3 separate regions of the Homo sapiens genome follow, and regions 2 and 3 are each linked to region 1. The links come from fine-mapping of genetic effects on gene expression. A gene starts in region 1. Each other region holds a variant in brackets. All regions are shown on one strand. Distances are from middle to middle. Region 1 holds the start of METTL15 (methyltransferase 15, mitochondrial 12S rRNA N4-cytidine). Region 2 overlaps METTL15 (methyltransferase 15, mitochondrial 12S rRNA N4-cytidine). Region 3 has its middle 90 kb from the start of BDNF.

The links. PIP is the estimated chance that this variant, and not a neighbour inherited with it, causes the effect.
Region 2: its variant is the best candidate, but not a certain one, in a credible set for the expression of METTL15 in whole blood (INTERVAL, PIP 0.50).
Region 3: its variant is the best candidate, but not a certain one, in a credible set for the expression of METTL15 in whole blood (TOPMed, PIP 0.87).

What each region holds. Positions count from the first base shown.
Region 1 is chr11:28,106,621-28,110,980 of GRCh38, reverse strand. It overlaps METTL15 (methyltransferase 15, mitochondrial 12S rRNA N4-cytidine), which reads right to left and starts at 2,593. Exons shown (of 7, transcript NM_001113528.2): 1 at 2,529-2,593; 2 at 580-815. KIF18A (kinesin family member 18A) reads left to right here and starts at 2,825. Exons shown (of 17, transcript NM_031217.4): 1 at 2,825-2,917. RefSeq lists enhancers at 460-689, 552-1,052, 2,298-2,377, 2,564-3,087, 3,288-3,547 and 1 more.
Region 2 is chr11:28,151,711-28,155,710 of GRCh38, reverse strand. All of the region lies in intron 3 of METTL15 (methyltransferase 15, mitochondrial 12S rRNA N4-cytidine), which reads right to left. Among named protein-coding and RNA genes, the nearest start is that of METTL15, 45 kb to the right of the region's middle. The variant T/C (reference allele first, on the strand shown) is at 2,445.
Region 3 is chr11:27,788,340-27,792,699 of GRCh38, reverse strand. No RefSeq gene overlaps it. Among named protein-coding and RNA genes, the nearest start is that of BDNF, 90 kb to the right of the region's middle. The variant T/C (reference allele first, on the strand shown) is at 1,887.

The sequences.
Region 1 (4,360 bases):
TGCTAGTGGCCAGCTACCCTAAATGATTTAAGATTAAGTTCCCTCTGGTCATAAGGAAGCAGGGAGTCAGGAAAACTGCCTCTGTGATCTCCTAGTTAAGTCATTTAACTTTTCTCTACAAGCAAAGTTCACTTTTGGCTGTTGAGAGCATAAAATTGCCAGATTACTCTTTTAATTGTGAAAACACACAGGTGAGTGATGCCCATGAAGGATACTCCCTCAAGGGCTCTAACAATTATAATCATTGCAGTCAATTTTGTCTGGCAGGGAAATCCTGTTTGAAAATGTAATTTTTAAGGACAAAAACGCGACGTGGCGGCTGGCACACGAACGCTGAGAAAGTGAAAGAGGTTCTAAGGAAAGAGAAAAATACACCCTTTTGCCTAAGAATTACGCTCTGACGAGGAAAAACTATTCGGAAACTTCCAAACCCAGGTTGAAGGCGTGTTGAAGAGAGGGAGAGGGTCAGGGGCGTATTTTTCTTTTGCTCCGGACGAATCCAGCGACCCCTGTGGAGTACCCCCAAAGGTTTGGTGGTTTCCAAAACGAGTTCCCGGGACTCGGTCCCCTTCTCCTCACCTGAAGCACGAAGACTTCTCAGCTGGCCTCTAACTCGGGCCAGCGACTACCACTACGGTCCAGGAGAACCTGAATGCGCCGCGCGTCTAGGTCCTGCCCCTGGGGGAAACTTGTAAGGACGGACAGATTGGGTCCACGTCCGCCCAAGCAACTGAGGACCGTCTGCCTTTGGTTCCGCTGTTTCCAGCCTCAGCTGCCAAAGGGTCCTGTTGGCCTGGGGTTTCCAAACGACTTTCCTGGGGGAAATAAATAAGACCTCACTATTGCCATGTTTAAATTCACTTTTACTTTTTCCATTTTTATTTTTTGGTCTGAAACAACTTTAAATCTAACTTTTCATTTATCCTTATCTCTGCTCTTTGGTTTACAATGAAAGTATATTAAACTTGTATTCTGATAACACAGCAGTTATACTCCAATTTTTAACTAAAAGTGGGAATTTCTGTCTCATTAGCTCTATGTTTAGAAACTACAAGGAGCAAGGTGGCACAGTAGTGGGATTGATTGTAATGTCAAAATCTCTCTGCTTTAACCAAATGTACAATTCCTTTAAAATATGGACCTCATCATCTGAACACTGTTAAATGGCAAGTGTAACACTGAATTTGAAATCTAAAGTACTTGGATTAGGTGTGAAAACATCTGTGGCACTGATAAACCTTATACAATGTGGGTGTCAAAAAAGACAAACTTTAAAACACTTCTATTCTTCACCAATGATCCATGCAATTTTACAAGCAACTGGCAAAATATGCATATTTTCAGACTGGATTAAGATATTCTCTTAATGTCACTTAATCCAGAAAGTATTTCAGAGACAAATGACTCAATTCTGAATTGCCTTGCCTGTATAGTTCAAGACAAAATTTTGTGTTAGGAATTTTCTGAAAACTTCAGTTTTCTCTCAGAAAAATGAAAATAATATTACCTACGTCTCATGGGCTGTTTTGAGAATTAACTGAGAGACCATATGTAAAGGGACTAATAAAATACCTGGGAAGTCAAAACGTAAAGTACTATACAATGAGTTCTTACTGGAAATAAAGACATCTCGATTTTATTACCAAGACCAGCAGCACACAAATAACCATTTCATTAGCTAAGATACACGTAATACAGCCAAAAATAAGTAGTAGCTTTATTGATCCTCTGTCTAGTGATCAGAAACAATAATATAACATGCATCACATACAGTACACAATACTCCCGATTTTCCTCAACAGGAAATAAATGTCCATAATACAGAGGTTTCCATATATTGTTGCATTTATAATACTCTGCATGGGTATGAGTCATCCTATTTATAAAGTGATATTGAATCCACAAAATATAAGCTCCAAGAGGGAAGAGTTTGATTCCATTGCATACTATTGTGTCTAAAATCTAAATAATTGCTAAATGGATACAATAACAGTAATATATAGAACAATGAAATTCAGATACTGTTATTAAAAACACCCTGCCAAATAAAGTTATTTTAGCAAACGTATTTCCGATTTGTTCCAGGTATTTTCTCTCTTTTTAAAGTGTCTATGCTGAAATAATATCTATAACCTGGGACTTAAAAAAAATCACTTCACCTAATAATAAACCAAGCCAAAATCTTTAAATTTATTTTGTTATGCCATCATTAGACAGAGAATGTAAAAAGTAACCAAACAGAAAATAGTTTCACGGTCAGTACTAATGGGAGTAGGCCTGGAAGTCCTGAGAAATGAAGCCTGAGGCCTCAACCCAAAAGATCTCCAATTAATTCAGGTGAAGAGACCCCACATTTTGGCCCATATTAATGTGTCTGGAAGAAACAGGTCCCTACAACTTCTTGGAGGCCTCACTACTCAGAGAAAAGAAAATAAACACCCAGAACCCATTAATCCACACCCAAACTCCACCTCTCCCCCTAGCAGAGGGCATAGGCCAACCCCTGCCCGCAGCAGTCTCACTCACACCCTTAACTCTGGGACCGGGCCCTGCACCCGCCGGTCTACAGGAGGCCTGGTGATCTCAAGTGGCTGCCTCCCACCAGCAGCTCCGGCCTAGCCCCGCCCACTTTGGCCACCGCCTCCGGAAACGGCCGCGCGCGTTGCCACGGTGACGAGCAAGCAAAGAGCTTCCCCTGCGCAGCCAGGCTGAGCTTCTTGGCGCCAAGCTGCCGCGAGCCGTGACAGCGTCCGACGTGATGACATCACGCGAGCGGCAGCCAATGAAACGAAGCGCTGAGGAAAGTGGCTTGGGTTTGAATATTGTGGTTGAGTCTGAAGCGCTGGGAGGCGGACATTAAAGTGAAGTGGTTGCGGTAACCTGGCCTGGGCCTGAAGTGAGTGAGAGGCACATGAAGGTAAAACTGGACTCTGGGACGCTCCTTTTGGTGACTTGTATTATTGGGAACGGAGGGTCCTGCCGCTTCAGGTCTAGAAGACCAGGTGGGCTTCTTGACAAACACAGAAGCGTTGAGGGGTGGGGGATCAGGGTACCTGGGGAGAAAGTGAAAGGAAAAAGGGATTCGAGAACCTGCTAAGAGCACAGCTCTGCTTGACCGTAATCCTCGACTGCTCAGCTGGAAGGGCAGGGATCTCCTTAAGTCCTGAGAGGAAGTCTTAAGTTTTAAAGGGCATCTTGGCCCCTTTCCCAGACTGGCAGAGAACTTTAACTGCCCAGCACCTTGTAGTGTCAGCTTTTTTCCGGACTCCAAATTGGGAGTGTTTTGTTTCAGACTCACATATAAGCGTACCCAGGGGCTTACCTATCAAACGAGGAGCTTTTGTTCATCACTGCATAAAATTTTTGTCTGAAGAGCTTTAACTGTTAGTCTTGCACTGGTCAATCGGGAACCCCTCCTGAGCCCCAGTTGTAGGTAGCATCGAGATAAAAGCCGCTCTGACTGCCTAACGGGATTGCCGAGGATCAGATGAGGTACGGAAGAGATACTGTTTGGCAAATGCTCTGCAGATGAAATTAAACTGTAAACATTTAGAATCAGTCCTATAGTCTGTTCTTGGTTTCCGCAGGACTTTTTTTTTTTTTTAGGAGCTCATTAGTCACTCAGTTACAGAGAAGCCAAGACTGACTGCTGTTTATTATATGAGAAGAGAGTATTTGACCAGAATGAACTGATTTTGTGGTATAATATATAGTTTAGATTATGGATAATTAGGTAGAAATTTAGGCACTCTACAGATTTTAATTTTTAGTGTCATTCCACCACGTCTAGCCTCCTGTTTCGTTTTTGTAAGGTTTTTATAAACTTTGATGCTAGAGAATGTGATATCCAATGACTAGATAGTGCTTCTTATTAAGTTCATAGTTTGTAAGAACTATTTCAATAAACAAAGATTATCTACAAAGCACAATCACAAAGAAAAAAACTTAAAAGATTATCTGCCTTTAATAGTAGTAATTAATCTCCTTTTCTATTATTTATTCATTTATTTGAGACAGAGTCTCGCTCTGTGGTCCAAGCTGGAGTGCAGTGACGTGATCGCTGCTCACTGCAACCTCCACCTCCCAGGTTCAAGCAATTCTCGTGCCTCAGCCTCCCGAGTAGCTGGGATTACAGGCGTTTGCCACCACACTCGGCTAATTTTTGTATCTTTGGTAGAGACGGGGATTCACTGTGTTGGCCAGGCTGGTCTCGAACTCCTGACCTCAAGCCATCTGCCCGCCTCGGCCTCCTAAAGTGCAGGAATTACAGGTGTGAGGCAGGGCACCCAGCCCTTCCTCTTCTACTATTGAAAAGTATTTACAAATACATAATATTTTTATATTGAAAGTGCATCTTGTC
Region 2 (4,000 bases), 45 kb before region 1:
GCCAGAATTTGAACTCACACAGTCTTTATCCAAGATCTAACCTCTTGTCCTCTTCCCTGCATTGCCCATTCTTCCTTGGCCTTCACACAAACCTACAGATCCTATATGCAATATGGTCTCCCTATCCTCTCCCTCTCATCTCTGTTAAGAGGGTCCATAAGCCATTAATTCAGACAGAGCACTCCAGAAACCTGGCAGAGGTGGGAAGGAAAAGACAGTGAATTCTAACAAAGTTAAAAGTAAAGAGAGAAAGGATGCATTATTGAGGCTGTAAAGTAATAAGGTCCATGTTCCTGGACAGATCAAGAATTGGCTCTAAAGGCAAACATTTAAATCATCTAGTTTAATCTCGTTCTCTCCTCCACCCCTTGTAAAAGAAGATGCTGAAACTTAGAAAAGTTAGTTGTTTTTTCTTCAATGCCTAACAAAACTAGTTAAAGAACCAATGCCATATTCCTATTGGAGAGCATTACATTCTAAAAATCATTATGAATGGGGATGTATTGGATCTAATACAATCCTAAACCAGAGAGAAACCTTAACAAAATAAAGGAATGAGATAGAAAGAAGCTGGGACCAGTTTCCCATAAAATGCTACCTTAATGCTGCAGACATCTAGAGAACACCTTACCTTTAACCTGCTTTCTTAATTCTCTTTTCCTTGTATTCTCAATCCTGATCCTGCCAAAATAAATCCCATTAGGAGAAACTTCTATCTTTTGTAGTTTCTTAATGGCTCTTCCTTCCACAAAGAACTGGATAAAACTTGCCCAGTTTTGTCTCACAAATTCACTTAAGTCATACGCTAAAATCATCTTATACTGAGAATGGCACAAATTCAAATGCATAAATTAGAGAGATACTCCTTTGTGAGAGAGAACTGAGAAAAACAGAGACCCTGTGTAAGAGGGATTTAAGTGCAGTAGCATTATTAACTACATACTATATAATCAGGCATTATAATTGACATTTTGCAGGTGTCATTTCTTAAAATCAGCACAATCCTTGTATGAGAGAGTTCTTATTATTCTATTTTATAGGTAAAACTAATAAAGCTTAAAGAAGCCAACAGACTTGCCCAAAGTGACACAGTACCAAGTCACAGACCTCTGACATTACAACTTTATTTATTCAAGTACTTATCTAATAACAAAATTTATATATTTTTCATACACTTATTCCATAAGCTGTGATATGCCATTTTATTCTACTAAAATCAGTTCTAGAACTAGAAGGTAAACTAGAGCTTATCTATACCCTCATACAAAATTAATAAACAAAGCCCAAAGATATAAAGTGACTTGCCAAAGATTACAGAACACGTTCATGGCAAGGAAGAAACTACAAATTGTTAAGATTTACCAAGAATTTACTACCCTATAAGGTAGGTATTATACTATCCACATCGTACAAGTGAGAAAACAAAAAAAATGGGAAATCAAGTGGCTTGTCCAAGATCATAAAGCAAGTAACAAGAAAGAGAAAGAACATAGATTTGTCCTCAAGCAGTCTGGCTCCACAGCCTGTGTTGTTAACCACTATGCTAGAATCTCCCCTTCAATTACGAGTTGTACCTCCTAATTTCCTTCCAGCTCCTCTGAAATTAAGATAAACTTTGCACTTATGAGTTACACATGAAAGAATCAATAACAGAAAAATCAGGTAAGAACCCACTTTGAAAATTCAAACAGCTCCATTATTTCAATTGATATTTAGAAATTTACATTAAAATGTAAATGAGTCAATTTATAGAGATTAACAGAGGCTCAAATTTTAAACCAGAACTTTTCCCAGCACTACCAATTTCTGCGCTTAGCTCATCCTTCCAACTCTACCACATGGATATTTGTAAAATGAGCCTAACGATTAGATCCTCTGTCCAGAATCTGGACAATTTAGAATGCTAAATTGGGACCTTAATTGTTTCTGTTTCATGAGTCAGTGAGTATAATATTTTATCTGTTGGATTTTCTAAATGCCAATTCCATCATGTTCTAAGCACATTCTTTGCCCACTCAGTAGACTGGGTCACTCAAACAAAACTTAAGTACAACAGTAAAATGAAGTTTTCTAATTCTTTATTTTCTTACAAGCAACCAACAGACTAATATTTTCATGGGCTCATCTACCTATGTATCTCAAATTTTTCTTTTATCTATTCACTCTCTCTCCATTTATCCAATCCCAACTGTGTAAATCACACATTAGAATATAGTCAGCCCTCCATATTAATGGGTTCCCCATCCATGGATTCAACTAACCAAGGATCAAAAATATTCAGAAAGAAACATTCCAGAAAGTTCCAAAAACCAAAACTTGAATTTGCCAGCATGGAGAGTACTGTTGAATCCCATTGGAGTAAAGGGATGGAGAGGCATTATATTAGATATTATAAGTAATCTAGAGATGATTTAAAGGGAGGATGTGCGTAGTTATGTCAGAGG[T/C]ATTCGAACCAGAGTGAAACCATCTTGAATAGGAGCTGGGTAAAATAAGGCTGAGACACAGGAGGTTAGACATTGTAAGTCACAGGAAGAAATAGGAGGTCAGCACAAGATATAGTCACAAAGACCATGCTGATAAAACAAGGTGCTGTAAAGAAGCTGGCCCAAACCCACCAAAACCAAGATGGCCATGAAAGTGACATCTGGTCCCCCTCACTGCACATTATATGCTAATTATAATACATTTGCATGCTAAAAGACACTCCCACCAGCACCGTGACAGTTTGCAAATGCCATGGCAACGTCATGAAGTTACCCTATATGGTCTAAAAAGGGGAGGAACCCTTGGTTCTGAGAACTGCCCACCCCTTTCCCAGAAAACTCATGAATAATCTACCCCTGTTTAGGATATAATCTAGAAATAACAATAAAAATAGCCAAACTGCAGCCCTTAGGGCTGCTCTGCCTATAGAGTGGCCACTCTTTTATTCCTTTCTAATTCTTTCTTGCACTAGATCTAAGAACCCTCTCTTGAGTTCTGGATACGGACCCCTTTCCTGTAACAGTTATATACAAATATGACATCATTTTATATAAGGAACTTGAGTATCTTCGGATTTTGGTATCCAAGGGGATCCTGGAACCAATCCCTCATGGACACTAAGAGATGGCTGTATTTTACTTTTTCAAAATTATTTTCCAATGTACAAAAAAAAAGGCCCTCAAAGACTGTGAGTTAAAAAAAAGAAACGTTTCCTAACATTTTTTCCCTTTTTCTCTGTCAAACTATATTTAAAAAACAAAATTTAGTGACCATCATATGGCTATCACTAAATACATAAACAAATTCCTTTCAACAAAATTGACTAAAAAGAAAAAATTTATATCCTAAAGCCTACTTCCTCCTCACCATCCATTTGGAAATGAGAAATGAATTCAACATAAGGGACATTAGTACATAATTTAAGACAGCAGCTTAGGCCTAGTGCTTATGAGGTTAGCAGTGTGCTGCAGTTAATTAAAAAAAAAAAAGCACACATAGGCTTTGAGGACATATAAAACTAATTATATCATTTCCTAGCTCCATGATCTTGGGCAACTCATTTCACTCCTCCAAATCTCAGTTCACCTGTCTAAAATGTATATAAAGTAGCAGGTGTGGTCCAGGAGACAGAAGGGAAAATCTAAAAGTCTTGGGAAATAAAAGTAGAAATACAAGATCCACTAACTAGTGTTATATAGTATAAATAAACCAGGCACTCACGCTGGGAATTGACCTTCTTTATTTCAGAAGCAAATAACTATATTTGATTATTGAAATCTGAAGGAAGAGGGTGGGACCAATAACAGTGGGTATAAAAATTAAAGAATTATTGAGGGGAACACTCAGGAAATTGACAGGTCTTGAAGAACAGCTATAAGCCTACTTAAGATTCTAAACTTTGTTGGGCTGAGACACTCAGAAATTTACAAGATACAGAAGGAGGGACAGTAATGCAATAAACTGTTATTGAATGAGGTACTGTGCTAAATGCTAGAAATATATAAAGTAGGTATGA
Region 3 (4,360 bases), 320 kb after region 1:
AAAACGCATCAGCATAAACATGGTGACAAGTATGTAGGTAATTAGCCAACTAGGAGTGGTCAATTAAACAAATGAAGTGCCCTAAAGAGAATTCATAGTCTAGAATTGGTTAGTTTGCATTTGAAGGAAGCAAATCAATAGTACTAGAAAGGTAACTGTAGAGGATTTGTTAATTAGCATGAGAAGTGTTAGAAATAATTTGTCACCGGTGAAATGAGTGTTGTTTAAAATTTATATTTAGCTAATACAGTCAGCCCTTCTTATGCAAGGATTCTACACCCATGTATTCAAACAACTACAGATTGAAATTTTTTTTTTAAATGGATGGTTGTGTCTGTACTAAACATGTATAGACTTTTTTCCTTGTCACTACTTCCTAAACAATACAGTATAACAATAGTAGACAGCATTTACATTGTTTCATGTGCTATAAATAATCTGGAGACTATTTAAATTATATGGAAGGATGTGCATAGGTTACGTGCATAGGTTGTATGCATCATTTTATAAAAGAACTTGAGCATCCATGGACTTTGGTATCCTTGGAGAGTCCCGGAATCAATCCCCGATGGACACCAAAGGACAACTGTGTGATAGTTGTGCACAGGCATCTCTATTTGTGAATGAATGTGATATAAGAATTGGCAAGCCCATCTTGCTATTCAAAAAGCATTGCGTTTCTCAGCGTGATTTTTTTTCATGAGAGGTGGCTGTTGGAGTCCACTAAGTGTAGCACATGTTTTCAGCTGAGTCATTTTATCAGTCTTGTGTCTTGCGTGTAGACCTTTTGGAAGTCCAATAGCCTTTGTTTATTTTATCTTCCTTCTGCCCCTTTCAGTCCAAACTGGAAGTATTACTGCTGCTATAACATTCTCAAAAATCTTGTGTATCTCCCTTCTATCCCACAGGGATTTATGCTATTAGGCCAGAGGGCCCTCAACAGATATTCCCTGAATAATCACATTTTCAGTCTCTTTAGCCTTTACAAAAAATTGTCCTGTTACACCCTTGGCCTTCTCTCCAGAGTGCTCTTTCCTAACAGTAAATCTCCTAATTTTAGCATCTTTTGTAATCTGAATAGACTGAGAATTTTTAAAAGCAACAAATCCTGGTTCATTTTTGCCTAACAATTCTTTATCAAGTATCTCTTTCTTCTCATATTATGCTATAAGCACCAAGACGAAATCAGGCCACACGTTAAACACTTTGCTTGGAAATCCCCTCAGGTAAATATCCAAGTTTATTGCTTACAAATTCTTTTCACACAACAGTAGCACACAATTTAGTGAATTTTCTACCACTGTACAAGAATCACCTTTTTTCCAGCTTCCAATACTTGTTCCTCTTTTTCTTCTCAGTTCACACCAGAAGCACCTTTAATGTTCATATTCTATAAATTTTTTTTAAATGATAATACATTTATCCTCTAAGATGATATGGGCTTTCTCTACCATGCACCTCACTTCCTTCTCAATTCTCACCAGAAATGCTGTTAATATCCACATTTATACTCTGTTTAAGGAAATATAGGCTTTTTCCAGCATGTACCTTAAAATTTATTATTCAACTCCAAAGTCACTTCCATATGTTTAGGTATTTGTTAAGGCAGCTCCTCCTTCCCAGTGCCGTAATCTGTATTAGTTTCCTAGTCTGCTGTAACACAATACCACATACTGGATGGCTTCAAACAACAGAAATTTATTCCATAATATTTCTGGAAGCCAAAAGTCAAAACTCAGTACCACTGGAACAAAATAAAAATATCTACAGGGCCACACTCTCACTCTGGTGGCTCTACGGAAGACTCTGTTCTTCGCCTCTTCCAGTTTCTAGTGGCTGCCAGCATTTTTTGACTTGAGGCCTCATCGTTCTAATCTTTGCCTCAA[T/C]CTTCACATCACCTTCTCTTTGCTATGCACGGCTTCTCTTCCTCTGGTTGTCTCCTATAAGGACAGCTGTGATTGCATTTAGGGCCCACCTGGGTGATGCAGAATAATCTTCCTATCTCAAGATTTGTAATTTAACTACATCTTCGAAAACTATTTTTCCTCTTAAGATAACATTTACAGGTTCCAGAACATCTGTTTAGGACCTGATATCTTCAGAGAGTTTTTATTCAGGCTAGTACCCTCAGAGAGGTCAAATAACTAGTCTTAGATTTTGCCTGGATTTTTACAGTTGCCTCCTAACTTGTCATCACACATCAGCTACAATAATTCTTTTAAATCATAAGCCAGAGTGTGTCACTCCTCTGGTAAAAACCCTACAACAGTTTCCTATCTCACTCGAGCTAAAATCCAAAGTCTTTGTAATGGCCTTCTGCCTTCTCTGATTCCAAGTTCATGTTCTTTAATTAGGGCCCTATTTAGCTTTTAAAACCTTTTAAATGGGGGTGGATGGGGTGACTGTATCTACTGTTGCGGAATCCAGAGCACAGCCATTCCCTAAAGGAATGTCCCAGCTTTCTTCACTTTACTGGAAATGAGTGGGGAGGGGCTCCCCATATTGCTGCAAGGGACTCTGGGAAGGAGGGAACTGAGGGTGGTAGGAAGATGGCCATAAACTAAAAACCTGGCAGTGCTTATCACTCCTGTGAGGTTATATAGTATTCGTATTTCCTCCCCTCTGCTTTTCTGTATCCAAGGTTTCTGTGATGAATATGTATTAGATTTGAAATAGAAAAGAAAAGATATTATTTGAGGAGAAGGAGAAAATGGTTGCCATATAAATAACAAATAGCACAAAGAGTGGAACTGTATTTCTTTCTCCTATTTTACCCCACACATCTTCAATCTTGACTTCCCTCATAATGCCTATTGCTTTTTGTAGTTGCCGTCAAGTTTTTTCCTTTATGGCTGGCTTTAACATTTCCAGGATCTAACACATAGTAGGTATTTAATTATCACTGTTGAAAGAATGAATGAATGTGTTAGTTGATCAATGATATGGATTTCAAACCAGATGCAAAGTGCATGACTGAGAATGTCCCTACTTCAAATGGGCTCAACCTTGACCCTGGTGCCCCATACCCTATACTATCTCATAGCTGACTCTATTCACAGTAGCTTAGGGAAAGAATTTTGGGAGAAAATCTGGCTTTCCAGAGTCCTAAATGTTGTTTCACTCAAGTGGCCTCTATCTGGTTGTTGACTGGAGTCTTTCCATCCAATCTCTGTGGAAGAGATATTGGTAATATTGGAGATATTGGATGAACCCTTCCCCATCAGCTCTCTTCTCTGCCCTGAGAAACTCAGGAGAGCCTGGTCTAGATGTCATCAATGACAGCCATACTCTGGGGGCCCATAGAGGGAGACCCAGCATGAGCTTGGCTCCTGGCTCTGGATCTCTGAGATGATGAGGTCAGCCTGATTGTTTTAAGAGCTTAGTTTAATTTATCTAACCTCATCCCTAGAATGAAGAGTTTCTAATCATTAAAGAAGCCCGTATGACCTTTGCTTCCTCCTAATACAGATCCCTGATAATGATTACTCCAAAAATTGCTACAAGATGGATTTAATTGAGAGGCAATTGGCCAAGGGGTCACTTTTCTGTCTTCATGTCCTAACTGTTTAGCATCTAACCTATTTCAGATGGAATAGGTGAGAGAAAATGGATAGAAGCAGTAAGAATTACATGCATTAGTCTGTCGCTGGTCTAAGCCCTGACTCCTTTTAGCTTTCATACATATCATCCAACATCTATGAAATCAGGGGGAATGGAGCAAGAGGGAGAACTGGCACCCACCATGCACAAGGTATTTTACATGCATAATTATACTTATTTCCATCAATTGGGCACCTACTATATGCTAGGTACTTGGACATACATATATTCTTTAATCCTCTTAAATCCTAATGAAGCAGATAATATTAGCCCCATTTATTAATTAAGACATGAAGGGCCAAAGAGCCACTTATTGTGGCTATGATGGTTAATTGTGGCCCAATGTCTGCCCTCCTCTTCCTTCCCAGTAATAGAACACCCACTTCTTAACTAGAAAAATGACTAGCCAGAATAATGACTACATTTCTCAGCTTCCCTTGTAGGTATGTGTATGCACGTGACCAAGTTCTGACCAATGAGATAGAAACAAAATAAGTATGTTTCTACTTCCGGATAATGTTCTTATATGGAGGAAAGCAATTTCTTCTCCTTCTTGTCCTGCCTTACTGCTGATTGGGATGTTAGTTGTGATGACTGTAACTAGAGCAATTAATCTGCACTTTGAAATGGAAGTCACATGTGAGAATGGTAGAACAGCAACAAGATAGATGGGATTGGTGTTCCTGATGAGTATAGCTAATATACTAGTCCTAGGTGGCATGCCCTTACATGAGAGAGAAATACATTTTTATTTTGTTTA